Homo sapiens: one gene and its partners. The protein of the gene in region 1 interacts with the protein of each later gene in a biochemical or structural test. Each region holds a gene or a part of one and is shown on either strand. Other genes may lie near its edges.

The links.
Region 2: of the proteins of NEK6 (region 1) and EML4, one has a biochemical effect on the other in vitro, tested with the Homo sapiens proteins (one study listed by BioGRID).
Region 3: the proteins of NEK6 (region 1) and RBBP6 form a complex in vitro, tested with the Homo sapiens proteins (one study listed by BioGRID).
Region 4: the proteins of NEK6 (region 1) and ARHGAP33 form a complex in vitro, tested with the Homo sapiens proteins (one study listed by BioGRID).
Region 5: the proteins of NEK6 (region 1) and PRAM1 form a complex in vitro, tested with the Homo sapiens proteins (one study listed by BioGRID).
Region 6: the proteins of NEK6 (region 1) and CIRSR form a complex in vitro, tested with the Homo sapiens proteins (one study listed by BioGRID).
Region 7: the proteins of NEK6 (region 1) and PTN form a complex in vitro, tested with the Homo sapiens proteins (one study listed by BioGRID).

Annotation. Positions count from the first base shown.
Region 1 is NC_000009.12:124,313,195-124,317,088, forward strand, and holds part of NEK6 (serine/threonine-protein kinase Nek6), read left to right. Parts: intron 1-728; coding exon 729-791; intron 792-3,894. UniProt on the Homo sapiens protein: Protein kinase which plays an important role in mitotic cell cycle progression. Required for chromosome segregation at metaphase-anaphase transition, robust mitotic spindle formation and cytokinesis.
Region 2 is NC_000002.12:42,298,285-42,302,178, forward strand, and holds part of EML4 (echinoderm microtubule-associated protein-like 4), read left to right. Parts: intron 1-2,956; coding exon 2,957-3,108; intron 3,109-3,894. UniProt on the Homo sapiens protein: Essential for the formation and stability of microtubules (MTs). Required for the organization of the mitotic spindle and for the proper attachment of kinetochores to MTs. Promotes the recruitment of NUDC to the mitotic spindle for mitotic progression.
Region 3 is NC_000016.10:24,545,767-24,549,660, reverse strand, and holds part of RBBP6 (E3 ubiquitin-protein ligase RBBP6), read right to left. Parts: intron 3,499-3,894; coding exon 3,399-3,498; intron 717-3,398; coding exon 680-716; coding exon of another isoform or gene 626-679; exon of another isoform or gene 260-625; intron 1-259. UniProt on the Homo sapiens protein: E3 ubiquitin-protein ligase which promotes ubiquitination of YBX1, leading to its degradation by the proteasome.
Region 4 is NC_000019.10:35,773,901-35,778,508, reverse strand, and holds the start of ARHGAP33 (rho GTPase-activating protein 33), read right to left. Parts: upstream 2,946-4,608; 5' UTR 2,851-2,945; coding exon 2,845-2,850; intron 2,412-2,844; exon of another isoform or gene 982-2,411; coding exon of another isoform or gene 865-981; coding exon 767-864; intron 686-766; coding exon 601-685; intron 230-600; coding exon 149-229; intron 46-148; coding exon 1-45. UniProt on the Homo sapiens protein: May be involved in several stages of intracellular trafficking. Could play an important role in the regulation of glucose transport by insulin. May act as a downstream effector of RHOQ/TC10 in the regulation of insulin-stimulated glucose transport.
Region 5 is NC_000019.10:8,492,527-8,496,420, reverse strand, and holds part of PRAM1 (PML-RARA-regulated adapter molecule 1), read left to right. Parts: intron 1-3,894. UniProt on the Homo sapiens protein: May be involved in myeloid differentiation. May be involved in integrin signaling in neutrophils. Binds to PtdIns(4)P.
Region 6 is NC_000002.12:174,378,552-174,382,445, forward strand, and holds part of CIRSR (corepressor interacting with RBPJ 1), read right to left. Parts: intron 3,227-3,894; coding exon 3,153-3,226; intron 2,264-3,152; coding exon 2,253-2,263; intron 2,165-2,252; coding exon 2,100-2,164; intron 1,700-2,099; coding exon 1,651-1,699; intron 490-1,650; coding exon 372-489; intron 1-371. UniProt on the Homo sapiens protein: May modulate splice site selection during alternative splicing of pre-mRNAs. Regulates transcription and acts as corepressor for RBPJ. Recruits RBPJ to the Sin3-histone deacetylase complex (HDAC). Required for RBPJ-mediated repression of transcription.
Region 7 is NC_000007.14:137,333,526-137,337,419, reverse strand, and holds part of PTN (pleiotrophin isoform 1 precursor), read left to right. Parts: intron 1-3,894.

The DNA of each region.
Region 1 (3,894 bases):
TTCCCAAGCCCCTTGATTTGCTTACTTGTCCTTAAAGAACAAGATTGAGAGCCTGGGCAGAGGAGGGCCGGGAGAGAGAATGGCGTTGGGGAAATGGGGAGAGAACACCCGCAGCTTCAGGGCGCTGGAGGAGTAGCAGGGTCCTCTCTGTCCAAAAAAGGACCAGTTTCTCTCTTGATCTTGTTTTTTTTTTGAGATAGAGTCTCAGTCTATCACCCAGGCTGTAGTGCAGTGGCGTGATCAGCTCACTGCAACCTCTGCCTCCCGGGTTCAAGCGATTCTCCTGCCTAGGTCTCTTGAGTAGCTGGGACTACAGGCGTGCACCACCACACCCAGCTAATTTTTATATTTTTAGTAGAGACGGGGTTTCACCATGTTGGCCAGGCTGGTCTCGAACTCCTGACCTCAAGTGATCCACCCACCTCAGCCTCGCTGGGATTACAGGTGTGAGCCACTGTGCCTGGCCCGCCCTCTCCATCTTCTGGGGAGGGGCTCACCTGGGCTCTCTGTCTTGGTTCTTTAGTGCCACGATGGGTTTTGTGGTGGGACAGTGCTGGGGGGACCCACAGTGAGCAAGCCCTACAGGGGCTGGGAGTGCAGGGGGGGGTCACAGAGTCCCTTGGTGAGGAGGTGGGAGAGCCGGGACTGGAAAGCAGACCCCGTGGCCTCCTTTGGGTCACTGGACACAGATTGTAACCACTCTATTTCTCTTTTTCCTCCCGCCCAAGATCTTTGAGATGATGGACGCCAAGGCGAGGCAGGACTGTGTCAAGGAGATCGGCCTCTTGAAGGTGAGCACCCTGGGCCGAGCGGGAGCTTTGCCTCCTCGGGGAGGTTCTGGGGCCGCGGCTGGGCCACATCATGTCCATCACAGCCCTTGGGTGCCAGGAATCCGCAGCCCCTGCTAAGTTAACAGACGATAGCTTTCTAGGGGCAGCGGCTAGTGAGTTTTCTCCTGGCCAGGCAGGAGCGGCCCGCCTCATCGCTCTGCCCAGCCCTTGGGGTCGCTGCCTACAGCCTTTCCTCCTTGCTGCACGCCCCTCCTGCTTGTACATGGCAGTACCCGGCATAGAAGTCCTTCCCCACAGGGCAGCCCTGACCCTGCCTCGCAGTGGCCTATGGACCAGGCTTGGCTAGGGGAGGAGTTCATTGTGGGGACCACATCCAGACTGCAGCCTGTCTGGCTCTGCCTCTGTCTCTATGTCTGTCTCCCTGTTTTTCTCTTTCTCATCCTCTTTCCATCTCTCCTCTCAGCCTTTTTCTTTGGTTTTGTTGGTAGTGGTGGTGGTGGTGGTGGTGGTGGGTTTTTTTTTTATTTTAGAGGCAAACTCTGTTGCCTGGACTGTAGTGCAGTGGCATGATCATAGCTCACTGCAGCCTCAAACTCCTGGGCTCAAGCAATCCTCCCGCCTCAGTCTCCCGAGTAGCTGGGACCACAGGCGCATGCCACCACACCTGATTTTTATTTTTTATTTCTTTTGTTTTTTTTTGAGACAGAGTTTTGCTCTTGTTGCCCAGGCTGGAGTGCAGTGGCACAATCTCTGCTCACTGCAATCCCCACCTTCTCGGTTCAAGCAGTTCTCCTGTCTCAGTCTCCTGGGATTACAGGCACCCACCACCACACCCAGCTAATTTTCATATTTTTAGTAGAGACAGCGTTTCACCATGTTGACCAGCCTGGTCTCAACCTCCTGACCTCAGGTGATCCATCCACCTCAGCCTCCCAAAGTGCTGGGATTACAGGCGGGAGCCACCGCACCCGGCCCCCCATGAAACATACTGGATTTGCTCGGCAGTTTCCAGCAAAGTGGGACTGCTGGTGGCAGGGCTGCCCGCCGAAGCCACAGCTGCAGAATTTCAGATTAGCAGTTTTTTCTGCCACACGCTGCCCTGTGTTCTCAGGCCTTGGCCCTGCTCTTGGGGACTTCCAGGCTGGTGGGGAAGCAGGTAGGAAGCAGATGGTGACCTTCCAGGGTGATGCAGATTGACTGGTGGGCCAGGAGCCCCAGGGAAACCCGCTTCCTGGGCAGGCCTCACAGAGGGCAGGGCACCATCCCAGAATCTGGAAGGCCGAAGTGAGCCTTCTTCCAGGCACCGCAGCACCGTGGATTATGGGAGGTTGGGGAGACAGAAGGCTGGACATGGCAGCAGAGCCAGATACACACTCAGAACAAAAGGGGAGCCCCTGAAGTGGCTGCAAGTCGGGGGGCCATGGCTGGGTGTGAGTTGTGAGTGCCTGCTCTGGTGGCCCCCGGCCACAGTGGGTGAGGGAGTCAAGGCTGGAGGCAGGAGGTGTCCTTACCACTAACTATTATAGGTCAAAAAATATCCCTCGAAAACATTGTTTAAATGTTTAAGTAATGGTCAGCTTGCTGCCACTTACCCAGCCCTGAGGAATGTTTGTCCTGATCACCCATTGCCCCCTCCCCACCTCATGTGCCCTTCTCCCCGAGTGAAGGAACCCACAGGTGAGCATGCTGAGCACAGCCTGGTCTGGTCCCTGGTCACACAGATGTGCCACCGCAGCCCCTGCCTTGCAGGAGCCTGAGCCTGGCGTAAACCCACATGGCTGCAGAGGGGATTTGGTCCCTTCTCCAGGGCTGCCATGCAGCCAAGGGCACCAAGCCGGGGTTTCAGAGGACACACCCCTCGCTCACTAGCTGTGTGGCTGCAGGCCAGCCATGGGCCTCTCAGGACCTCAGTTTCCTCATCTGTAAAGGGGGCATGATGACAACAGGGACGCTGGAGGAGTCAGTGAGGAAGCATGTCTGACGAGCTCAGGGCAGCGCTGGTGTGTGGTACGCTCGCCGCCCAAGGCAGCCCAGTTGTCATGGTTGCCACCTCTGCCCGCCAATGCCAGCCGCCTTCCCGAACACGGGTCCCACTCCACAGGTAGCCCATGGGAAGTCAACAGGATGTGCCAGGGCACGAGGTGCTTCCTACAAAACAAAAGGAAACGTGGTTTTCGGAGGGGTGACTGTTGACATATCACATCATTCATGCAAAGAACCCAAACCCAAAACCTCTCAAGTGCGGGGGCTGGTGGGGTCGGCAGCTGCCAAGCGTGGGACAAGAAGGTGGGTCCTGTTGGAACGCAGGCGTGTGTTCATTCATTCTGTGCAATTTCTGATCACCACTGAATGCTGGACACCAGGGTGCAGCCCAGTGGAGAAGACAGATCATAGACACTCTGTGTTACATCCGGGAGGGCCTGGAGCTTGGGAGCAGAGCCCCTGATGGCAGAGATTCAAAGGACAGGGACCCTTACTCTCAGCTCTCCCTCCCTTCCCTCTGGCCACCACCACAGCCAGACAAAGCCCAACCACATTGCGTCTTTGCAGCACCTTCCCTGTCCCTGACCCAAGTGTGTCCCCTTCCAGACCCACCTGGGCCCACCAAGAGGCCACAGGCTGTGAAGTGGACTCCATGTGGACCAGGTTCTAGACTCAGCTCGGCCCCTGCTTGCTGTGGACCCGTGGCTGATCCCTTCCCCTCTCTGGACCTTGGCGATTTAGCCCAATGGACGTCTGGAGCCCCTTTCTGCCTGTGCCTGTGTAGACTGCCTGGGCATTTAAGGGAGCCCTTCCTTAACCCCCTGCCCTCAGACGTGCAGGGAAATGGGGGAGGAGTCTCCCTCCTCCCCTCCCCAGGAACCAGCGCCTCCTTGATGGGGCTTTACTTCCTACCCAACCCCTCTCATTTCTCCCTTGTTGGAGAAACTGTGTCATGCCTGGACTGCTGATGACCTGGGCAGTTTTTGGGGAGTCCTCCCTGAGAGGTTGTGAGATTTCCTGGTGACATAATGAGGTGAAGTTCAAGAGGAGGGTGAAGGAGCAGGGTGTTCCCATTTATCCTCATAGCAGCTTGCCCACGCCGTAGGTCATGTCTCAGAGA
Region 2 (3,894 bases), on another chromosome or scaffold:
GTAAACTTGCTTTTTATGGAAGCTTTGTGTCTGTTAGAGATGAGAAGAAAGGGTGAGGTTTGTGATTAAGTTTGGATGGACTTGACCATATGAGTAAGCCTGAAGGCAGAGTAGGTTTTTTTAATTCAAGGATAATTATTTTCCTTGGCAGGGATTTCAAACATTATTTGGCAACTGAAATATCAGAAATACAGGCCCATAAGAAAGACATCTTTGGCTATAAATTTGTTTTACAGGTAAATACTATATAAAGGAAACTTTGATAATTTGTTTAAATTAGAAACACTAAATTTTTTAAGCTAAGTCGATACTAGGTCCACCTCAGGAAATAACTTTCCTGGAGTGAGAAGGACTCACTGACTTGATCACTATATAGAGTATTTTTATTTCTGATGAAGCATTTTTTTCTTCATTTTTTTTTCCAGTTTTCCATCATTCTGGGAGGATTTTAAGTGTTTAACAAGGTTTTTGTCATGTTTAGAAATACGGAAAGCAGACTTAAGCATAGAAAAGCTTTATTTTCTTACATTCTGATAGAGAACTATGAAACTCCCACACCTTTGCTTTTTGTGTTTTCTTACATGATACCTTCAGGCTACTCTTGTTAGTTTGACCATGCACAGGGAAATAAGCCTAGAATTTGCTTTTCTCTATTTTTATTATCCAAATAAAGCCAGTAGTACTCTCAGAAAATTCTCATCTCTCAGGTGTCCTCCCTCTCGTGGTAACATCAGAACAGAGATAGATACTTATCTACCTATGCCAGTGAACACAGTTGTGTTGTTCAATTTTTAAGGTATTTTTAGATGATAAATATTGATGTAAGTGGAGACAGTTGACCTGAACAGCAAGTTTGTTGGAGTTCTACTTCCAGCTCTGCTGAATTGGGCAAGTTCTCCTCCAAATCAAGCAAGCCCTTTCCTGTCTCCCTGCCATATATACCCATCTGTTAAGTATTTGTACCACTAGCATACTCAAACTGAGACATAATTTTTTTTAGGATACCAAAGCCTTAGAAATTTTAGTCAATTTGTTAAGTATAATAGCAGCTCAAATAGATGAGTAAAAAAGAACAATCTCAGTAACAACTTCGATATATAATTCACATACCATGAAATCTACCCTGTTGAAGTATGCCTTTAAGTTCAGTGGTTTTTAGTATATTTACAAGGTTGTGCAGCCATCACCACTATCTGACCTAAGGACATTTTCATCACCCCAAAAAGAAAGCCTGTACCCATTAGTAGTCACTTTCTATTTCTCCCTCCCCTCAGCCCCTAGGTAACCACCAATTTCCTTTAGGTCTCTATAGATTTACTTGTTGATGACATTTCATATAAATGGAGTCATACAATGTGTGGTCTTTTATGACTTGCTTCTTTCACTTAGTTTTTTTTGTTTTGTTTTGTTTGTTTGTTTTTTGAGATGGAGTTTCACTCTTGTTGCCCAGGCTGGAGTGCAGTGGTGCGATTTCGGCTCACTGAACCTCCGCCTCCCAGGTTCAAGCGATTCTCCTGCCTCAGCCTCCCAAGTAGCTGGGATTACAGGCATGTGCCATCATGCCCGGCTAATTTTGTGTTTTTAGTAGAGAGGGTTTTGCCATGTTGGCCAGGTTGGTTTCAAACATCTGACCTCAGGTGATCCACCCACCTCGGCCTCCCAAAGTGCTGGGATTACAGGTGTGAGCCACAGTGCCCAGCCTTCACTTAGCATTATGTTTTTAAGATTCATCCATGTGGTGGTAGCATGTGTCAATACCTCATTCCTTTTTATGGCTGAGTAATATCACATTGTATAGACATACTGTGTTTTTAAAATCTATTCATCAGTTGAGGAACAGTTTTAGAAAATGAATAGTTGTTAAACCTGAATTTTTTCAAGAGGACTAAGGGCTGTTTATTGACTTACTTTGGCCATATTTCAATAAGGTTCTACCTTCCCATTTTGAACCTGGTAACTAATTCTGTAGGACATCATCTTCCAAAAAGCTTTACTCTTGCTCTGCTAGCCTATCTAGCTAAAGAGCTTCTCTGAGTAAGGCATTTATGAATACCAAAGAAAAAGGTATGAGTACTATCATCTTATTCTCACCCTTAAAAGGGGGCAAAATATAATTTAAAAAACCACATGTGTTTGCCTAAAAGACCTTTTATGTACCCCCTTGGTCTCTCCCTGGGTACTTAACAAAGTGTGCTATGGGTATACAAGAAAACTGGGCTGTTATTTAGCCATCACATTGGTACAGCTGAATCAATTTTTAAAATACTGAAATTATTCTCTGCTAGTAGGTCAAAAGCCATCACTGCAGGTATCCATTGCCTACCTTTGTCCCAATAACTTCTGTAGTGCCCCCATATCTCAGCAAATAAAGGGGAGTAATCCTTGGCACAGCAGAAGGCCTCTGGGTTAACAATGGTTGTAAAACGTTAAACGTTGTGACTGTTACCTCAGAAGGTCAACCAAAGATGTTTTTGCAAAGTTAAAGGAACATCAAGGTGGGAGACTTGAGCCTAGTCACAGCTTTGTTATTAGCTAACTATGTGGTATCCCCTAAGCTGCTCCTGTACCTCTTGTGTCTTGAGCTCTCATATCAGAAGAGTGACACCTACCCTAGCTACCATACAAGATGATTATGAGAGATAGTAAAGTTCTGAAACCTATACTATATCCCCTTTCGTCTGTGGAATTATCACTACTTTTGCTTTGGTTTTTTGTAGGAAAATATTTTGAAATATTTTCAGAGTAAATAAATATTGACAGAAATGCAAAAGATTGTATTATACCCTAAACTTTACTACCTGCTTTGCACAAAAGACTTGCTGAAAATAGGTTTTTGATTGAGTCATATGAACTTTCTGATTATTAACTCTAGTTCTACTGAAGTTTTCTTCCAAATAGACACTAAAATCTGAAGAAAAGTATTATCACTAGTGTTTTTATTTTTCCCTCATATTAGGTGTATATCAAATCAGCAAACAAATCAAAGCTCATGATGGCAGTGTGTTCACACTTTGTCAGATGAGAAATGGGATGTTATTAACTGGAGGAGGGAAAGACAGAAAAATAATTCTGTGGGATCATGATCTGAATCCTGAAAGAGAAATAGAGGTAAGGATGGAAACGGAATATAAAAATATTAAATACTCTAAACTCAGGTATTTTGTCCCACATTAAGATAACTTATACTTTTCTGGCAAACTTATTAAATTCTTATAATTTCATTTCCTTTCCTCAAGAAAGGAGTTTGTTGTTGCCTTTAAGATAACTTTTTTCAAAAAAAAAAGACCATTAAAATAATTTGAAAGACTATTTTTAAAGATTAGGCAGAATAATTTGCCTGTTAAAACCAGAGCAAATGTCACAAAGTTTAATTTTTCTTCTCTTTTTTGGTGATTTATATTTTGGATTTATGCTTAGTGTTTTTTTTTCTACGTGTAGCATTCTTTCCAGAGAAAATCTTCTGGAAAATCCTCTTAAAAAGAGGATCCTGATAGTACTGCTCTTGGATTTTATTTCCAGGAAGATAGATAATAAAGAGTTGCTTAATCACAACCTTCAGTTCATACTGAAAATGCAACTTCCATCACTGTTTTCTTCACAGATAACTCATATCCTTTGTTAATAAAAGCTATACAATCTAGTTCACTCCTTCCTTTCCCATTTCTAATGTAAATTTGGATTCCTCTTAGAGTTCAGTTATTTGTATTTTTAGGAGTAATTTTAGATCCCACTTGATAAAGTGGGATTTATAATTCCATTATTTCAGAATCATTCTTTGAGATTATTATTAAATGTATTAACACAGCATTCACTGAGATTGTTCCATGTATTGCATTAAATGAAATTGCTCTCCCAAGGAATCCTATTATTATAATACTTTATAATATATTGTTT
Region 3 (3,894 bases), on another chromosome or scaffold:
CCCAGGTTCAGGTTTCACTTTATAGTACAGATGTAAACAAAAGAAGGAGCTCAAAATGCCAAATAAAGCAAGACTAAATAATAAAGCTGCATCAATGGTCTCTGGAAAGCTCTTTTCTATGATGTGTTTGAACTTGGAGAAAGCATCAAACTTTAATATAAGCTTTGCATGTTGCTAATGCGTTTTTGGAAGCCATAAATCAGGCAGGAAAAAAAAAACTAACAAAAACTAAGTGATACAACGTGAAAATGGCAAAATATACACTCCAAACATTTTTTATTGCAAGAAACAAAAAGCACACAACAGCCTGTACATACATACAAAATACTAACTATAGACAGACAAATGTAGAACATGTCATCATGTTCCTTAGTGTAAAACCTAAACGATCTAAAAAGGATCATACATTAACTGTACAACACAGTGTCATACAGGGATAATGCTATCATATTTAATATGAAACAGTGTTACGGGCACAAATTACCCATTTCTACAAAATAAGTGTGCAAGTGATGCCACATATTATCCATATTCAACTGAGCTGTCATCAAAATACATTTTATTTACAATATGTACTATGATCAGTTGGATATTAAGTTCTAAAATGATTTACTTCACTGCTACATTATAAAGGTAAAAGCAATGTGTAGAAAAAGTGTGAGATTGTGTTTTTACATACTGCTTTTGTAGTTGCCATCGCTGGTTCAGTTCGACTTCTAAAACACAAAATAAAAACAAAAATTAACATTAGCTATTTATGAATTTTTGTGCTAATAAATTTTAACACATTATCTTCAATAATACATTTTTAGGAACCTAATTTTCCTTTGGTATAAATATTTAACAGCCAATTTCTGAATGAATAAATTACTCTGATTAATCTTTACCACCTTTGAGCAGTTTTAAGATAGATTTGTGGTTTGGAAAAAAATTCCATACTAGGGAATTCAAAAATAGGTGTACCCTGCCACTTAAAACAAATGTTTTCTGAAAGGTAGTATAGGGATTTTATGTTTAGAAACGTAGTTTATTCTTAATAAACTGAAAATTTTAAATTATATAATTTCCCAGTTTCTGAATGCGTAAATTTTCACACATCAGGAAGACTGCTGTTGTTAACATTTGTAATTTGAATCCCTGAGAAATTGCTGTGCTCCCAAAACTAATTTTCAAATCTGGAGGGCCAGGCTGATAGCTATTTTCATTTTTCAAATGTCTCAAAACAACAATCAAGGATTGAACAAGAGGCCAAGGTGAGAGGATCACTTGAGCCCAGGAGTTTGAGACTAACCTGGGCTGTAACATAGTGACCCCATCTCTTAAAAACAGAAAAAAAAAAAAAACTGAACAAAAATTCTCACTCCCAGAAAAACACAATATAATCAGAGTATTTTAGTTAAAAGAACTGACTTAAATGGCTGTGTAGAACTGGACAATTTGATGTTTAAAAGACATAAACCCCAAAAGAAATTATTTTAATCCACACAGGAAAGGGGAAGAAGTTGAGTTGCTAGATTATAGCCTTTTAATGCTTAAAGTTTAAGGTATCTTGACTATAGAGAAATGTTAGCATCTAACAGGAGTTTCTAGGTGTGTGTATAATTTGGAATTTGAGATAAAAAAAAAACTGAGCTTTGATTTTCTAGTATTTGCTCAAAAAAAAACTGAGATGCATTTTATGAGGCAAATTTATTACAAACAGAACCCTATATATTGTACATTAACATATAATTCTGTGTAAGAGGCAACTTATTTTGCCATGTACTTCAAATAATTCTTAAGAGTTTCTATCAAAAAATCTACAGAAAATACATTTGCCATTTTTTAAAAAGCACTTGGTAAATTAAAGTAAAATTTCACACTGGATTGTAGGAATTAATTCTCCCCATAAATTTATAATTCTTAGGCTGGGTGCGGTGGCTCACGCCTGTAATCTCAGTACTTTGGGAGGCCAAGTTGGGTGGATCACCTGAGGTCAGGAGTTTGAAACCAGCCGGGCCAACATGGTGAAACCCAGTCTCTACTAAAAATCCAAAAATTGGCCAGGCTTGGTGGTGGGCACCCATAATCCTGGCTACTTGGGAGGCTGAGGCAGGAGAATCGCTTGAGCCCGGAGGCTACAGTGAGCCAAGATTGTGCCACTGCACTCCAGGCTGGGCAACAGAGTGAGACTCCATCTCAGGAAAAAACAAAACAAAACAAAACAATATATATATATACACACATATATATATAATTCTTAGAATCATTTAAAGTTAAGAACACACACCATTAAAAGTTCACTTGGCAATTACAACAAGGAAAGTATTCAGCTTTTTAAAGTAGCTATTATATGGAAGATACTGCACAAAAGGACCTCTAAGTGTTAAGATATGGAATATAACTTTACAACAAACTAATGAGAAAAATCTTAGAATACTTGCCCATATGAGGTAAAGCTCCAAGAAATGACTTTATTTTTACCTTAATTTCAAGAACACTTTCCATTCCCTAGCACTGGCAAATTCTAGAATTTTTCATTGACTCAAAATAATTTGTTCCAATTTCAAACAATACTACCTAATTCTAAGTGAAAATCACTACTCTTTAAATAACCTATGTTGCTGCCCTTTTCACATATTATAGTTCTGCTATCACTACTGAAATTGCAAGAAAGCAGAGAAAGTTAAGGATATAAGGTTTTAATCCTGCCCCAGGTTAGTGAATACCAGCTCCGGACTAGTTGTGAGACTGCTCTCTTCCTACTCCAATAATGTGCATTTAGCATGTGCCAGACACTATTTAATTCTTACAACCCTCTAGAGTTAAGTACTCACGTCCCTATTTTATTTTTGAGGAATCTGAGGCACAGAGACTTACCCAAGGTCCAAAGTCACACAACTGGTATGAAGCAGTAAATGGAGTCAAATCTAAGCCTGATTTCAGTGCCCATGATTATAAATCCTATATACTTTATGCCTCTCAGCCAAAGCCCCTTATTGATAAAGAGTAAATGTTAGCATTACTGAATACTCTTGATGCTGTCAAAATATTTAGGACCGATGTCTACAACACCAAATTTTTGTAGTGAAGAAAACTGAAGGAACCCCCACAAAAAAAAGTAGTCAAAGAAAGGCACAGAAATAATGTGAATATCACTTTCTTGTATCTGTAAATACTGGCCATATGGAGAAAAATTTTTCCTAATAATGGCCCTCTCACAACAGGCTAAGTCAATTTAACTGGGGGAGGAAATCAAAAACAAACGAACAAAGAAACCTACTATCCTCACAGTCTTGAGAAGATGTATTCATTAAGGTTAAAGTAATGAGTTCAGTTCTAAAATACAGTTTTTTCTCACAAAATTAAAAAAACTAAAAAAAGTCTATTTTGAGAAATACATGAGATTTGATACTTACATAACATATGTCTTGCTTGTAGATTTAACACCTCCAATAGGAATTCTTCTAACAATTACAGAAGAATTCTTAGGAATCAGAGCATTATCATCAGTATATTCTGTAAATAAAAAGACAGAATTGAATTTCCATTTGGGGATTTGAGTGCGTAACCAAGAATTAGAAAACTTCAAATATAAATTTCATGGGAAATGACTTTAAATATAATAACTACAAGTTCCTTGCAACTAGATTACTGATATTGTCAGAACAAACATCCAAAGCCCTAAGAGGGCTTCTTTTCAAAGGACAACCAATATCATCAGCAGGTTCTTGGCTCTAGCACTTCTACTTTTGTGGAACTCCAAATCTCAGTAACACCGTCATTCTTTAGTTTAGTCTGAAATGCTGAACATGTGAATGGTGAAAAAGCCGTTATTCGGAATGAAGATATTCTGTCTCTCCTAGTCCCTAAACGTTAGTTGAGTATTACAATCCCTGCATTCACAGAAATTAT
Region 4 (4,608 bases), on another chromosome or scaffold:
GGAACGAAAGTCATCGTAACTCCGGAGAACCGGCCAGGAACGGCCCTGTGGGAGCAGAGGGACAGAAGGGAGCAGGGGCCCCATGACACCGAGCTGAGGACTACAGTGGCCATTCTCTCAGGCTAGATGAGAGGCGGGATGGCCTCACCTGACAGGTCACCTGCACCCCGAACACCAGCTCATTCTCTCCAGAGAGGCTGGGCCCTTCACGGTCTGGAGACAGCAGGAGCTGCAGAGGGAAAGCAAGGCCCAGGTGGACTTTTGTCCCAGTCCTGACCTCCTGGGGATGGCACTATCTAGGGACGGGTTTGTGACTCCCTTCTGGACCTCCCCGAGGACAGGGCCTGGTGATGTCCTGGTCCCTGACATAGAGCAGATACCTAACAAAAGTTGTTGTTGAATGAATAAAAGAACAAATGGATGAATGAATGAGCAGCTCTCCCCATCTGCTGTGGCTCCTGCAACTTTTGCTACTGACTGCTCAGACGCGTGCAGCAGCCAGTCACAGGGATAAGTTTCAGAAGCAAAGCACCTGATATCGTTGCAAGGTTGGGTAGGATATTGTCTTCCCTCCTGGGTGCAAATGCAAAGCCCCCATACCTGAATGTGGCCAAAGTCAACGTTCTCGTAGTGGAAATGGGCGCAGTCAGCCAGCCGCGGGAAGGGGCCTCGAGGAGCTGAGAGCCTGGGAGACAGGGGATGCGTCACCAGCAGCTCCTTGAGTCTCCCCAGCTCCTAGCTGAGCCCTTTCCTCCCTCACCCTCACCTCTTCCCAGGCTTCCCCTTCACACTGGGCCCCCCAGCAGTGGGTAGAGGCTGCACCGAGCCCTCCCCTGGGCCATCCAGGCTGTCAGTGCTGCGTGCCTGTAGAGCAGAAAGAATCAGAGGCCCCCAGAGATGGGAGCAAAGAGACAACGAGAGCATTGTTATCTGGCAGCGCGGGTCCAGAGCCCCGGGCGCTCCACACACCGCCCTGAGCATGAAGCAGGATGGCAGGTCGGGGGAGGTGAGGGCTGGGCTGAGGACAGGACTGCTTCTTCGTGTGTGGTCTGGGGTGGGGGACTGGAGAAGCAGGGGCCAGACGTGAGGCGGGGCAACAGGATGGAGAGCATGCTGGTCCCATCTCTCCCTGCTGAAAACCCTTCCGTAGCCCCTGCAGAGTACAGTGATCTCCTACCACTGTCTAGACAATCACAACTCCCATCTCATCAGCCTTCCTGCTTCCAGCCTCTCCCCTCCTGCCAGCTTTTCCGCAATAGCCTGGATCGTTTTCAGAAAACACAAATCTGGCTCTATTTCTCCATAGATCCTGGGCCTTCAATGACTCCCTGTTGTCTTCAAGACGAAGTCTGAATTCTCTGGTCTGATAATCGAGACTTCCCTGAGCTGATTTCTGTTTACCTCTCCAGTCCCATCTCTTCCCATTGCCCCCACTCTCAGAGCTCTTGAACTTCTAAGAGTCCAAAAAAAGCACCCTCTTCTCATTTCCTTCTAGGCCTTTGCAAAGGCTGTTCCCTCAGCCTGGAACACTCGCCCCACCTTTCCCTGGGTACATTCATCCTCACTCCCACCCCTCAGGTCCCAACTCACATGTGCCCTCCTCCAGGAAGTTCTCCCTGACCCTTCAGGCTGCACCTGGCATCTCCTCTGGACTCTCTCCATCCCCTGAGGTTCCCCCATCCCAGGTTCCATGCCTTGACCAGAGCTTCTCCCTTCACAGCTCTGATCACTCTGAGATGGCACTGGTGGTGACAAGTTCATCTCTCTCATTGGACTATGACCGGCCTCCCAGAAGGAGGGCCCCAGACTGAGCTCCCCAGCATAGAGCTGGGCATTGAGTTGGTGTTCAGACATGATTGTTCCTGATTCTTTTCTGGGTCCCCAGTGCCAGCCCAGTCGCGCGCAGCAGGGACTGGGTAAAATCTGATGAATAAATTAACCAGCTGCCAGACAGATTCACTGGGCTGTAGCGTCTCCCTGCTCCATGTCCCTGCAACCCCCAGTCACCCTCAGGGTCTCACCCTCAGGGTCTGTCCCCCTCCAGCCCATAAGGTTCCCCAAGGCAGGATGGGAGCTGACTCTCTCTGTGCCTGGAGCGTGGGGCCTGCACAGAGGCGGTCTCAGTGAATGTCTGCTAAGTGAGGGAATGAATGGATGAATGAGCGGGAGCAGCATGGTGGGAGAGGGAAATGGTGGGGGAGGGGGATGAGGACAAGGAGATGGAGCAGACCCGAGGATCAAGGGAGGTACAGTGCTGGCCTGTTGGGGTGGAGTAAGGAAGGAGTGGCTGGAGAGACGAGGCAAAGGCTCAGACTGATGCGGGGCGGGGGGGATTGAGAGGAACTGGGATAGGGTGAAAATGAGGGAGAAGGAGAAGAAAAGGGTCAGGCTGGGGATGGAGCGGGTGGGGGGTGGGGCTCGGGAATGAGAAAGGGGCTGTGGGGAGGAGGAGGGGGCTCCGCCGGGGAGGGCTGAGGGCTGGCAGAAGGATGCCGAGGAAGGTGCTGGGATGGGAGCTGGGGAAGGACCCAGGAGCCTCAGGAGGCCCCTGCAGGGGCCACTTGGGTGGCGCGGGTCCCTTCCTGGACTAGCCCCGCCTCCTCCCAGCCCAGGCCCTAGGTCCCTGTCACCCCATCCAGGGCGTGGAAGACGGGGATGCGCGCTTAGGGGGCGGGGTCGAGGTACGGGCTGGGACCCGGGATGGGGCCGCAGGACGGGAGGGACCACGGCTGAAGCACAGGCCGCGGGATCGGGCGGGGCCGGGGGCGGGGCGCGCGGGGCGGGGCTGCGCACGGACAGACTGACATCCGGACGGACAGGCTGACGGCCGCGTGGGACCCTTACCACCATGGTCGCGTAGCCTCCTCAGGCCCCGGCCGCGCTCGACCCCTCGCTCGCCGTTCTCGTCGCCGCTGCCGCCGCCATGGCGACACAAAGGGGAGGGCGCGAGCCGCGCGCGGGCGGCTGCAGACCCCGCCCCTAACGGCTGCCCGTGGCTCCGGCGCGCGCCCCACGGGGGCGGGGGGCAGCGGGAACGCGGCGCTGCTTCTCATTGGCTCCGCCCTTGGCCTTAGGCCGATGCCCCGCCCACCCGGAGGCTTCTCATTGGTTTCACCTTGGGCTCCGCCCCGGCTCTGTGTCCTCGGTCCCGCCCCTCGAAGTTTGACAGCGCCACGCCCATGACTGCTTTTCATTGGCTGTCATCGCCCTCCTGAGACAAGCCCCCAGGTTCTTTATGCTTTGCTTCCGACACTTCCAACACCAAGCAATGGACCCTACCTTTCGTCCACTCCCAGTGTCCATTCTTCTGACTTTTTTATTTTTATTTCTTTAAGAGACAGGGTCTCACTCTGTCGCCCAGGCTGGAGCGCAGTCCTGCAATCGTGGCTTACTGCAGCCTCAACCTCCTGGGCTCAAGCGATACCTCCCATGTAGCTGGGACTACAGGCGTGCGCTACCACGCCTGGCTAATTTTTTTTAGACATGGGGGTCTCACTATGTTACCCAGGATGGTCTTGATCTCTGGGGCTCAAGAGATACTCCCTCCTCAGCCTCCTTTCAAAGCGCTGGGATGACAGGCGTGAGCCACCACGCCAGCCAGCCCCTGATAGTCTTAATTGGATTCTCCCACGGCCTCAGAGCAGTGCCCAGTTCCTTAAGCAGCTTTTCAAAGTCCCAGTCCCAAGTCTCACCTTTTCAGTCCTGATCCCGACCCCGCTCACATAATGCCGAGGACGCTCCGCCCATGGACGTTTCTCGTTGCCTCATATACCTTGCCTAGGACGTAACCCGAGGCTTTCTGCGATTTGGCCTCCCCTGCCCACTGGACATTTTCTTGTTTCCCCTTCTACTGCTTATTACGGGCCAATCTCCAGCCTTGATTTTTTTTTTCTAGGAAAATGCTTAGGGGGAAATGCCAGATCATGCTTATGCCCCCCATAAAGCCATTCCCAATGGAGCCTGCTAATACTGAGCATGCCCAGATAACACTGTAATAACGCCCTTCACAGGAGGGTCTCTCCTTAGTCATGCCCTCAACAAATTCTCATCTCAGAGGGTCTTGGTCTGTTCATTCATTCATTCATTCATTCATTCACTCAAACTCTAATCAATTTGTACATACATCAACAACCAAACCAGGAGAAAATATACCCTGCCCACATTGGAGCTCAAAAGCTACTGGGAGAAGACAATGAACAAAATTAACATTAAACAAAATATAGAATATTAGGCCAGGCGTGGTGGCTCACGCCTGTAATCCCAACACTTTGGGAGGCCGAGGCGGGCAGATCACTTGAGGTCAGGAGTTCGACACCAGCATGGCCAGCATGGAGAAACCCCGTCTCTACTAAAAATACAAAAATTAGCCAGGTGTGGCGGCGGGCGTGCCTGTAATCCCAGCTACCTGGGAGGCTGAGGCAAGACAATGGGTTGAACCCAGGTGGCAGAGTTTGCTGTGAGCCGAGATCGCGCCACTGCACTCCAGCTTAGGTGTTGAAGTGAGACTCTGTCTCAAAAAAAAAAAAAAAAAAAAAAAAAAAAAGCTGGGGACAGTGGCTCACGCCTGTAACCCCAGCACTTTGGGAGGCCGAGGCGGGAGGATCACAA
Region 5 (3,894 bases), on another chromosome or scaffold:
TTTGGAGACACAGTCTCGCTCTGTTATCGCCCAGGCTGGAGTGTAGTGGTGCCATCTCAGCTCACTGCAACCTCTGCCTCTTGGATTCAAGCGATTCTCCTGCCTCAGCCTCCCAAGTAGCTGGGATTACAGGCGCCCACCACCATGCCTAGTTAATTTTTGTATTTTTAGTAGAGCTGGGGTTTCACTACATTGGCCAGGCTGGCCTTGAACTCCTGACCTCGTGATCCGCCCACCTCAGCCTACCAAAGTGCTGAGATTTCAGGCGTGAGCCACCACGCCCAGCCTGATTTACTTAGACCTGTTGTGTTCAAGGTAGCTGAGGGGATGTCCAGGCAGAACTTGGGCCTGAAACTCAGGGGGAGGTGTGGCCTGCAGGCAGGTGTGGCAGTGGCAGGGGAGGGAGGCTGCCAAAGGTTTCTTAGAAGTTTGTGCTGGGTGAATAGGGAGCAGGCCCGCACCTCCTGCCCAGCTCCACAGTTAATGCCTTCATGAAAACACAAGCAGCTTCCAGGCAAGCACCTTGCCTGCCTGTCCCTAAATCTGTACCCTCCACTCCCTGCATGTCCCTAAATCTGTCCTTAAATCCGTACCCTCCACTCCAAAGTTAATGCCTTCATGAAAACACAAGCAGCTTCCAGGGAAGCACCTTGCCTGCCTGTCCCTAAATCTGTACGCTCCACTCCCTGCATGTCCCTAAATCTGTCCTTAAATCCGTCCTTAAATCCGTACCCTCCACTCCAAAGTTAATGCCTTCATGAAAACACAAGCAGCTTCCAGGCAAGCACCTTGCCTGCCTGTCCCTAAATCCGTACCCTCCACTCCCAAATCCCCACAGGGCAGTAAGGCAATGCACCCCCATTTTACAGATGCACAAGGCTGGCCCGGCGTGGCAGCTCACACCTGTCATCCCAGCAGTTTGGGAGGTCCGGTGGGCGGATCACTTGAGGTCAGGAGTTCCAGACCAGCCTGGCCCGCATGGCAAAAACCCATCTCTACTAAAAATAAAAAAACTAGCTGGGGCCGGGCGTGGTGGCTCACGCCTGTAATCCCAGCACTTTGGGAGGCCGAGGCGGGTGGATCACCTGAGGTCAGGAGTTCGAGACCAGCCTGAACAACATGGAGAAACCCCATCTCTACTAAAAATACAAAAATTCGCCAGGTGTGGTGGTGCGTGCCTGTAGTCCCAGCTACTAGAGAAGCTGAGGCAGGAGAATCGCGTGAACCTGGGAAGGAAGGGTTGCAGTGAGCCAAGATCACGCCATTGGACTCCAGCTTGGGCGACAGAGTGAGACTCAATCTCAAAAAAAAAAATGAGTCGGGCATGGTGGCATGCACCTGTCATCCCAGCTATTCGGAAGGCTGAGGTGGGAGAATTCCTTGAACCCGGGAGGTGGAGGTTGCAGTGAGCTGACATCGCGCCGCTGCACTCCAGCCTGGGTGACAGAGTGAGACTCTGTGTCTGTCTCAGTTGAAAAAAAAAAAAAAGGCCAGGCGCAGTGGCTCACGCCTGTAATCCCAGCACTTTGGGAGGCCAAGGCGGGTGGATTGCCTGATGTCAAGAGTTCAAGACCAGCCTGGCCAACATAGTGAAAACCTGTCTCTACTAAAAATACAAAAAATTAGCTGGGTGTGGTAGCAGGCGCCTGTAATCCCAGCTACTTGGGAGGCTGAGGCAGGAGAATCGCTTGAACCTGGGAGGCAGGGGTTGCAGTAAGCTGAGATCCTGCCATTGCACTCCAGCCTGGGTGACAGAGTGAGACTCCATCTCAAAAAAAAAAAAAGAAAAAAAAATAGGTACGCAAGGTTGAGGCTCTGGGATGGGGCTTGCCCTGGCTTGCACAGCTGGTCCACGAGCTGGATCTGTGGCAGGGCTTTCAGCGGGGGCCAGAGCTTGAGCTTCTAAGGTGCTCCTGCTCTCGCTGACAGCCTCAGAGGGCCTGGGGCAGAGAGGCCCCCTCTGCTTCTCCTGGGCTTTCTCCCTGAGCTTCTTGCAACACCTCCCTGTGAGCACACAGCTTCCTGGTGGGGCCCCTTCTGCTTCCGCTCTAGGGGAGGCTCTGTGGCTTGGGTCTGGGGGCCACCGTTGGGGATGCGGATGGCCAGGAGTGGGGCTGCTGAGCGCCTGGGCTAGTGACAGCCTGCCTCCAACCACTCCCAGAAGCCCTGCTGGAATCCCCCACCTCTTCCGAGGCTAGGAGCATCTGCCTCTCCTCAAACTTCATACAGTCCCCACCCTTGGCCCATTGTTCCTGTCACCAAATAACCTTCTCCCCCTTCCTTGCCAGTCATTTGAGGTTCTGATAGGAAAAAAGAAAAAAGGGGCCGGGCGCGGTGGCTCATGCCTAAAATCCCAGTTCTTTGGGAGGTGGAGGCAGGCGGATCAGTTGAGGTTGGGAGTTCGAGACCAGCCTGGCCAACATGGTGAAACCCCGTCTCTACTAAAAATACAAAAATTAGTTGGACATGGTGTTGCACACCTGTAGTCCCAGCTTCTGGGGAGGCTGAGGTGGGAGGATCGCTTGAATCCAGGAGATGGAGGCTGCAATGAGCCGAGATTGCACCTCTGCACTCCAGCCTGGGCAACAGAACGAGACCCTGTCTCAAGAAAAAAAGAAAAAAAAAAAGGTCCCACTTCCCTGGATCTCCCGCTTCTCAGGAGTGGCGTGGGCTTCTCACTGTGGGTGCAGCTTCTCAAAGGCAGCTTAGGTCTCTTGGGGCCAGGACTCTGGACTCCCCTTTCCCACTGTCTGCCTTACTTGGAGCAGTGGCAGCTCCACTGCAGAGGTTCCTGGAAGGCAGGGGGCTCCTCTGCAGGTGGGGAGAGCCCAGCCTTTCCCAGGGATCTGAGCTGGCCATGCGGGGAAGGCGGGCAGAGGCCTGCTCTGGGTCAGCTGTGGATGAACCAGGGCTGCCTGCATGGCGGTGCCAAGAGGTGCTCTAATGTGGCGGGTTTGCAGGGACCCTGGAGTGCCAAGGTCAGGTTCGCTCCTGGTGGAGTGACTGCTCACGGCCAGGGAAGCCTCTGAGAGGCAGGAGCAGCTGGAGGGGCTGTGTGTTCCAGGTGAGACTGTGGATGGCCATGCCTGGTATCTGGCGGGCACGATTCAGGTGCTGCTCCTTGGGCTGCTTGGAGGGACTACAGGCCTGAAATGTCCGGCGGGATACTTTGAGCCATTCGGAAAGGACATGCTGGGGCTCTGGGTTCTGGATCTTTCACTCACCAGGGTTCCTGGGGCTCCCACCTGAAGCCAATTCCTTGGCCAGCAGGGCTCTGACTTGGGAGCCTGGTCATTTGCCAGGAAGTGGCACAGGGAGACTGGCACCATGGGAGACCCCTCAGTCCAGAGTCTCATCATCAGTCACCAGTCCAGGACGCTTACCCTAGCAGCATCTTTTAAAAATTATTTTTATTTACTATTTTGAGACAGGGTCCTGGTCTGTCGCCCAGGCTGGAGTGCAGCGGCGCCATCTTGACTCACTGCAACCTCCAGCTCCCAGGTTCCGGCGATTCTCCTGCCTCAGCCTCCTGAGTAGCTGGCATTATGGGCGCCCACCACCACACCCGTCTAATTTTTGTATTTTTAGTAGAGACAGGGTTTCACCATGTTGGCCAGGCTGCTGTCAAACTCCTGACCTCAAGTGATCTGCCCGACTTGGCCTCCCAAAGTGCTGGGATGACAGGCATGAGCCACCATGCCTGGCCATGATATTTTACTGTCAACTATCATTGCCCTCCTGTGCAATGGAACACCCAATTTCTTCTTCCTAACTGTAACTTTGTACCCATGGGCCAGCCTCTCCTCATCCTCCCTTCTGCCTTAGTTTTTCACCCAAATCTCATTACAGTAGAACCCCAGAACCTACCGGGTGCAGTGGCTCAGGCCTGTAATC
Region 6 (3,894 bases), on another chromosome or scaffold:
TGGCTGCTGAGGCTTTCAGTACAGTCTATTTTTATAATTCAGGATATGAGTATGAGAAATAAGCATTTTTTCCTTCCATTTTTAGGCTACTAGCCTGATAAACTATGTTTAATGTATTTTACTTTAAAACTTAGTTCATAGGGCCTTTGGCTGGAAAAATTAAACTTAATCCTATTACACAGCATTTTAATTCAACATATATGATCAGAGTTTCCCATTAATCATATTTTGGGAATGGTCTTAGTCAAAAACAAACAAACAAGCCCCACACACAAACCCAAATAAAACAATACCCAGAAAGAGTAAAGAAAAATGTTGTTTTATCTTTCCTTGTTTGTCCTCTCCCGAAACAAATCATGTCTAGTGCCTACCTGAGCCATCAGTGGGAACCGAACTTGCATTGATTCCAGAAAGACCAAACAAAGGACATTCTCGATCTGTGTTGACATGACCCCATTTGTGACATTTAATGCACCTCACATTTCGAACCTGAGAAATAATGAATGTGATTTTGGTTACTAAAAAAGTAAGAATCTAACCAATGTTCAAATTCCTATTCCTTGATAGAATTTAAGCTAAATTACATTTTTAAAAGATCTCCAGGGAAAAAGACTCCAAACTATGTTTGGTAATTTAATACAAAGACTAAAATCTTTCACTATAAATTTTGCCTAGAAACTAAGCTGAATCCCATTTCTTTTTGCCTCTCACTTGGTGGCAATATAATGTCATCCAAAAAGAAATGGTAAAATACCAAAAAGAATTAGGGCGTTATGTGAAGAATTTAAGCTTAAATTCTCTCATTTTAATAAGTAAACCTTTAAAGTTTCAAATTTCAAAACCTGGAGCTGGTAAACATTTTCTGTAAAGGTCCAAATGTAGTCAATATTTTAGGCTTTTTGGGACAGATGTTGTCTATTCTAACGACTCAACTCTGCTGCTGCAGTGGGAAAGCAGCCACAGCCAATAAGTAAATGAATAGGCAAAGCGGTGTTCCAATAAAACTTTCTTTACAAGGATTTGCCCTCTGATGATAGTCTGTCCCGATTCTAAACCAATAATAGATTTAAATCTTTTCTTGACCTTGAGCTGATTCTCCAAATTTTTTGAAAACTGCAGAGACCAATATCATTATAGCTCTCACTATAAAAGTTTGATTCCTGTCTTTTTTTTTTTTTTTTTTTTTTTTTGAGATGGAGTCTCGCTCTATTGCCCAGGCTGGAGTGCAATGGTGCAGTCTCGGCTCACTGCAACCTCCACCTCCTGGGTTCCAGCGATTCTCCTGCCTCAGCCTCCTGAGTAGCTGGGATTACAGGCGCCTGCCACCATGGCTAGCTAATTTTTTGCATTTTTAGTAGAGACAGGGTTTCACCATGTCGGCCTGGCTGGTCTCGAACTCCTGACCTTGTGATCCGCCCGCCTCGGCCTCCCAAAGCGCTGAAATTACAGGCATGAGCCACCACACCCAGCCTGATTTCTGTCTTTTATCAGCCTACTACATTTTATGTTTTCTCCTCTATTCCTTATATTATCTGATACAAATAAAAACCATAGTGCCCCTTTTCAGCTTAAACACCTTTTAGACAACAATATAAAGATACATTTATTAAATAAAAATTATTCTTACAGAGTAAAATATGTGTCACTTGCCTGAATACCAAAGGGCTGATCTCTGATGTTCATGTCATCTTTGGCATATCTATTAAATAGAGGAAATGTACAAACACAATATTAAGAATAATTTAAAAAATTAAACAGCAGTTAATCAGAAAAATAGTTTTACAGTTCTAAGAACATTATGAAATATATTACTTCAGTAAGAATACAGAACTATAAAATCTATCTAGTATTTCCAAACACCATTTAGTTATTATGTGTCTAGTCTGATAATTTGTGATATTAAAAAAATGAAAAAGTATATAAAACAAAAGACTATGAGCAAGCAGATTAGTTGAATAAGACAGCTAATTAAAATCATTAAAGATAACTTTTCACATCAGTTGCCTCCTCTAATGATTGAAAAAGCAACATAAGATGGGATATCAGTAAATGTAAACTTAATGATACATATCTTGTCTTAAAAGTAAACCAGTCCTTACTTTTCTCGTGGGGCTCCTTTCTGCCATTCAAATTTGTATTCGGTCTCTCCTTCTGTTTCTTCTTTCTAAAAACATTCATTGAAAATTCTTTTAATTTTTCCATATAATACAATCAACTGCAAGTAAATTCAGACATAGAAAATAGTACTTTACCTCTTTGTTTTCTTGATTGCATATCAAAAATATGGAAGAAAAAAGGTATGACAAGTTAAAAACTTCAATATAAAAATCTACTGTATACACTATGATATCATGTTATTTAATTGTCACTTGTAAGAATTCATTGGTTTGACTTTTTTTCTTCTTTCACATGATAAAAATTCAGACTATTGCAGGACAAAATACAAAATTAAAATTAATAAGTATGTTAATTCACAGTTTTTAAACTTTTCACTGTTCATTGACAGTGAATATTATGTTTTTTATTTACAAATGCATTAAATATTTAGTAAGAAGGACTAAAGATACATATGCAAATTATTAAAGAATAAGTGTACTTTGGACATGAAAGTTTCTTCCTTCTCAAAGGGCACATTATGAAATATTATCAGATTAGAAAGATATTTTTTAGTATTTATTCTGTTGTATGATTATAGTTTTTATTATCTTCACAGGATAACAGCAATTTTAAAAGATGGAGAGCAACTTTAAAAAAATATCTGTCATAGTACTTTTCCATGTTTAGCTGCAAACACATCAAAGACTTAAAAGAAAAGGAAGGAGGCCAGGTGCGGTGGCTCACGCTTGTAATCCCAGCACTTTGGGAGGCCGAGGTAGGTGGATCACGAGGTCAGGAGTTCAAGACCAGCCTGGCCAACATGGTGAAACTCTGTCTCTATTAAAGATACAAAAATTAGCCAGGCGTGGTGGCGTGCTCCTGTAATCCCAACTACTCGGGAGGCTGAGGCAGGAGAATTGCTCCAACTCAGGAGGTGGATGGAGGTTGTAGTGTGCTGAGATGGCACCACTGCACTCCAGCCTGGACGACAGGGCAAGACTGTGCCTCAGAAAAAAAAAAAAGAAAGAAAAAAAGAAACGGAAGAAGATAAGTACCTTTTTTAGCTCCTGGTGGGGCTTCATACATGAAATTAAGGCCATTCTTTACACGTTCATCTCCCATAAGCAATCTAAGTGAAACAAGACAAAGTTAACGATTTTATGTAGGACAAAAAAAAAAATTATAGAATAATCCACTCCCCACCAAAAAGCCTAAGGGAATTAAGATAAAATATTTTTGTTAGAAACAGAGTTCTAAAACTTTACTCCACTAACTAGATTACATCTGAATGGAAATTAAACAGTGCTGTCTCTTTAGTAACTAGTTATAAGCTCTGAGACTTTCTTACTACCTGAGAGATCCTACCCATCCTAACAAAAAAGGGGAAAAATAACATGGTCATTTTTCTTACAGGATTTTCTTAAACCCTGAAATGCTGTGGAAATTATGACAACTTTGAAATCCCATATGCCATCACAAATTTACAATTAAGTTAAATAGTGCCAACACTTTTTCTTGATTGTAAGGGATCAAACGGTTTTGTTTTTTCCCACCAAAAAAAGAAAAGGCAAAGGAATCAGTTTTGGAAAAAATAAGTCTCTCAGGGATTTCTTTAGGAAGTCAAATCCAATCAGGGCTTGTAAGAGTCACAGTAAATGAGAAAATAAAATTCTTTCGTGAGGCCAGTGAAAAAAGAATAAAAGTCTGCAGCTGGGCACAGTGGCTCACACCTGTAATCCCAGCACGCTGGGAGGCCAAAGCAAGTAGATCACCTGAGGTCAGGAGTTTGAGACCAGC
Region 7 (3,894 bases), on another chromosome or scaffold:
AAAAATTGATACAGAAATGCAGGCTTAGAGAAGTTAAGGGGGCCATATTCAATGACATACAGATATGAAAACAAAAGTCTTAAAATTCCTAGTTTGAGTTTATTCCTCTGTAATATAATGCCATCTCTTTCTTAGGCTAATAAATAGATTTTATCTCCCATTTGTCTCTCATGTCAAACCCCAAATCCAATGTATGTACAGTTAGAGGTCAAATAACCTACAGCAGCAGTTCCCTGTCTTCAATGTTTATCAGATTAACTAGCGTCATGTGTAGGTTCCAGCTGCCTGGAGCCCATCTTCAGCAGTTCTGATTTAAGAGGTGGAATCAAGGACCCTGGACATACGACAGGGCATGTGGATACGGATGAAACATTAGAAACAGTAGCCTTAATCGCTCAATATTTGAGCTCCAAGGTCCAAAATACTGAGGTATAAACCACTGCACTTCTTAGTAGCTCTGTGACCGTGAGCAAATATTGTGGTCTTTCTTACTTCAGTGTTTTCATCTCTAACATGGGAGCACATACCTACCTTCCAGGATTGACGTCTGAGTAGTAATTGAGAAAATCAATGTGAAGTACTGAACATAGAGTCTGATTGCTGGGAGTGTTTGAGCAGGATGGTGAAAATGATGATCATGGTGAAGCAGCACCAGATGCAAGTCCTCACTTCTTCCCCCTCCTGAATTGCTTTTCTTTCTCATGCCCACTTGGCATCTGCAACAAACATACAAGCAAAATCCTAGGTGGAATTCCATGCTTCTTGAAAGGCCTCGCCCCTCCACATGCTCATACCATTTTCTTCCTTCTCTCTAAATGCAGATTGAAAATCCTTTCTTCTGGAAGAAAACATACGGAGCATGTGATCATGCTCAAGGCCTGGGGGTTGGGCAGGCAAAGTCTCCGATGCAGACTCTTTGACCTTATCCCTTCCCATAAGGTATAGGAGAGCATTTTGCATACAGAAGACTCCCAATCCAAGAGACAGGCACTTTATTGCTGACCTTAGTGATGCTCATAACCACATTCTCTCTGACCCCTGCTGATAGAGGCTTCAGTCCAGGGAAGGAGTTAAGGTTTGGAGTCAGGAACCAGCATCTCACCACAGTCCGCCTGTTGTTTGGTATGGGCTGCTGGATGTGCCACTGAATCTTCTGAAATCTTAGGTTTTTTAGCTCTAAGTGGGAAATGATGATGATGTTACTTGTTTTGCCAACCTCATAGGTTGGTGGTAAATGTCAATGGTCACGACGCAACATCTGTAAGCTCTAAACTGTTATACTGAACATGAACTGAACTTAATAAAGTCAGTGGGGCAAGTTCTGCCTTTCTGGTTTCCCAATCCTGCTATTGTCATTGTCATTTTCTCAGGACACACAGAGATTGCCTAAGTTGCTTGAAGGTAAGTTTGACTCACAAAGTGAGGAGGAGGTAAGATGTGCGACAGGAATGAAGAAAAAGAAATGAGTCATACTAAAAAAAAAAAAAAAAAGCGAGAAGACATCTTAAATGAGGCTGAACTGAAACAGGCATGCTTTCTTTTACCTCAGATTATGTTATATTTCCTTCTGAAGTGTCTTAAAAGCTACATGTCACATTTTTTAATTGGTTATTCTCACTAAATATAAGCCTTAGTAATTGGCTAACAGCAGTTCATTTACATGATAGCTGGATAACTGTGCTTCTCAAACTTTCATGTTCATACCAGTCACCCAGGGTCTTTGCCAAAATTCAGTAGGTCTCCAATGAAATCTCAGAGTCTGCTTTTCTGCCAAGCTCCCAGGTGACTGCAGTACTGCTAGCTTGGCGACCTCTCTTTGAGTAGCAAGCCACAACAGTTTAATTCAACAAACTTGAGGGAACAGGAGACAAATCAGAATGCTCCAGTCATGATGTCCATAGCTTAATAAAAATGATGAGGATCATTGTCAATATGTTATATGCAAAAGCTTCTAAAACTTACATCTTTGTGACCAAATAATATTTACAATGTATGATTATTTATGAAAGAAAATTGCAGACACCACCTGATTTGCTATTGACTTCACTGAAGTTCCCTTAAGTGTAAAAAGCCCCTGGCCAGATGTTGCACTTGGGCCTCCTTACCAGTGCTTCTGCTGGGGTCTTTCTCGGAGAGGGTGTAAGTGATCCAAATGTTGCCTTCTTCATTTGCTTTAAAAGCTAATGAAAAGTGTTTAGAAAACTTCATTCTTTTTTTTTTATTATTATTATACTTTAAGTTTTAGGGTACATGTGCACAATGTGCAGGTTAGTTGCATATGTATACATGTGCCATGCTGGTGTGCTGCACCCATCAACTCGTCATTTAGCATTAGGTATATCTCCTAATGCCATCCCTCCCCCCTCCCCCCACCCCACAACAGTCCCCAGAGTGTGATGTTCCCCTTCCTGTGTCCATGTGTTCCCATTGTTCAATTCTCACCTATGAGTGAGAACATGTAGTGTTTGGTTTTTTGTCCTTGCGATAGTTTACTGAGAATGATGATTTCCAATTTCATCCATGTCCCTACAAAGGACATGAACTCATCATTTTTTATGGCTGCATAGTATTCCATGGTATATATTTGCCACATTTTCTTAATCCAGTCTATCATTGTTGGACATTTGGATTGGTTCCAAGTCTTTGCTATTGTGAATAGTGCCGCGATAAACATACATGTGCATGTGTCTTTATAGCAGCATGATTTATAGTCCTTTGGGTATATACCCAGTAATGGGATGGCTGGGTCAAATGGTATTTCTAGTTCTAGATCCCTGAGGAATCGCCACACTGACTTCCACAATGGTTGAACTAGTTTACAGTCCCATCAACAGTGTAAAAGTGTTCCTATTTCTCCACATCCTCTCCAGCACCTGTTGTTTCCTGACTTTTTAATGATTGCCATTCTAACTGGTGTGAGATGGTATCTCATTGTGGTTTTGATTTGCATTTCTCTGATGGCCAGTGATGGTGAGCATTTTTTCATGTGTTTTTTGGCTGCATAAATGTCTTCTTTTGAGAAGTGTCTGTTCATGTCCTTCGCCCACTTTTTGATGGGGTTGTTTGTTATTTTCTTGTAAATTTGTTTGAGTTCATTGTAGATTCTGGATATTAGCCCTTTGTCAGATGAGTAGGTTGTGAAAATTTTCTCCCATTTTGTGGGTTGCCTGTTCACTCTGATGGTAGTTTCTTTTGCTGTGCAGAAGCTCTTTAGTTTAATTAGATCCCATTTGTCAATTTTGTCTTTTGTTGCCATTGCTTTTGGTGTTTTAGACATGAAGTCCTTGCCCATGCCTATGTCCTGAATGGTATTGCCTAAGTTTTCTTCTAGGGTTTTTATGGTTTTAGGTCTAGCGTTTAAGTCTTTAATCCGTCTTGAATTAATTTTTGTATGAGGTGTAAGGAAGGGATCCAGTTTCAGCTTTCTACATATGGCTAGCCAGTTTTCCCAGCACCATTTATTAAATAGGGAATCCTTTCCCCATTGCTTGTTTTTCTCAGGTTTGTCAAAGATCAGATAGTTATAGATATGTGGTGTTATTTCTGAGGGCTCTGTTCTGTTCCGTTGATCTATATCTCTGTTTTGGTACCAGTACCATGCTGTTTTGGTTACTGTAGGCTTGTAGTATAGTTTGAAGTCAGGTAGCGTGATGCCTCCAGCTTTGTTCTTTTGGCTTAGAATTGACTTGGCGATGCAGGCTCTTTTTTGGTTCCATATGAACTTTAAAGTAGTTTTTTCCAATTCTGTGAAGAAAGTCATTCTTAATATGAAAAAGATATATGTAATATATTTACTTAGTGTTAAGAGTCTTCCCTTCTTTCACATTTTAACGTCTATAACTGCATTAGACTCTTTCCTTCCATACCATAATGGAACTAGACCAGGAATCATCC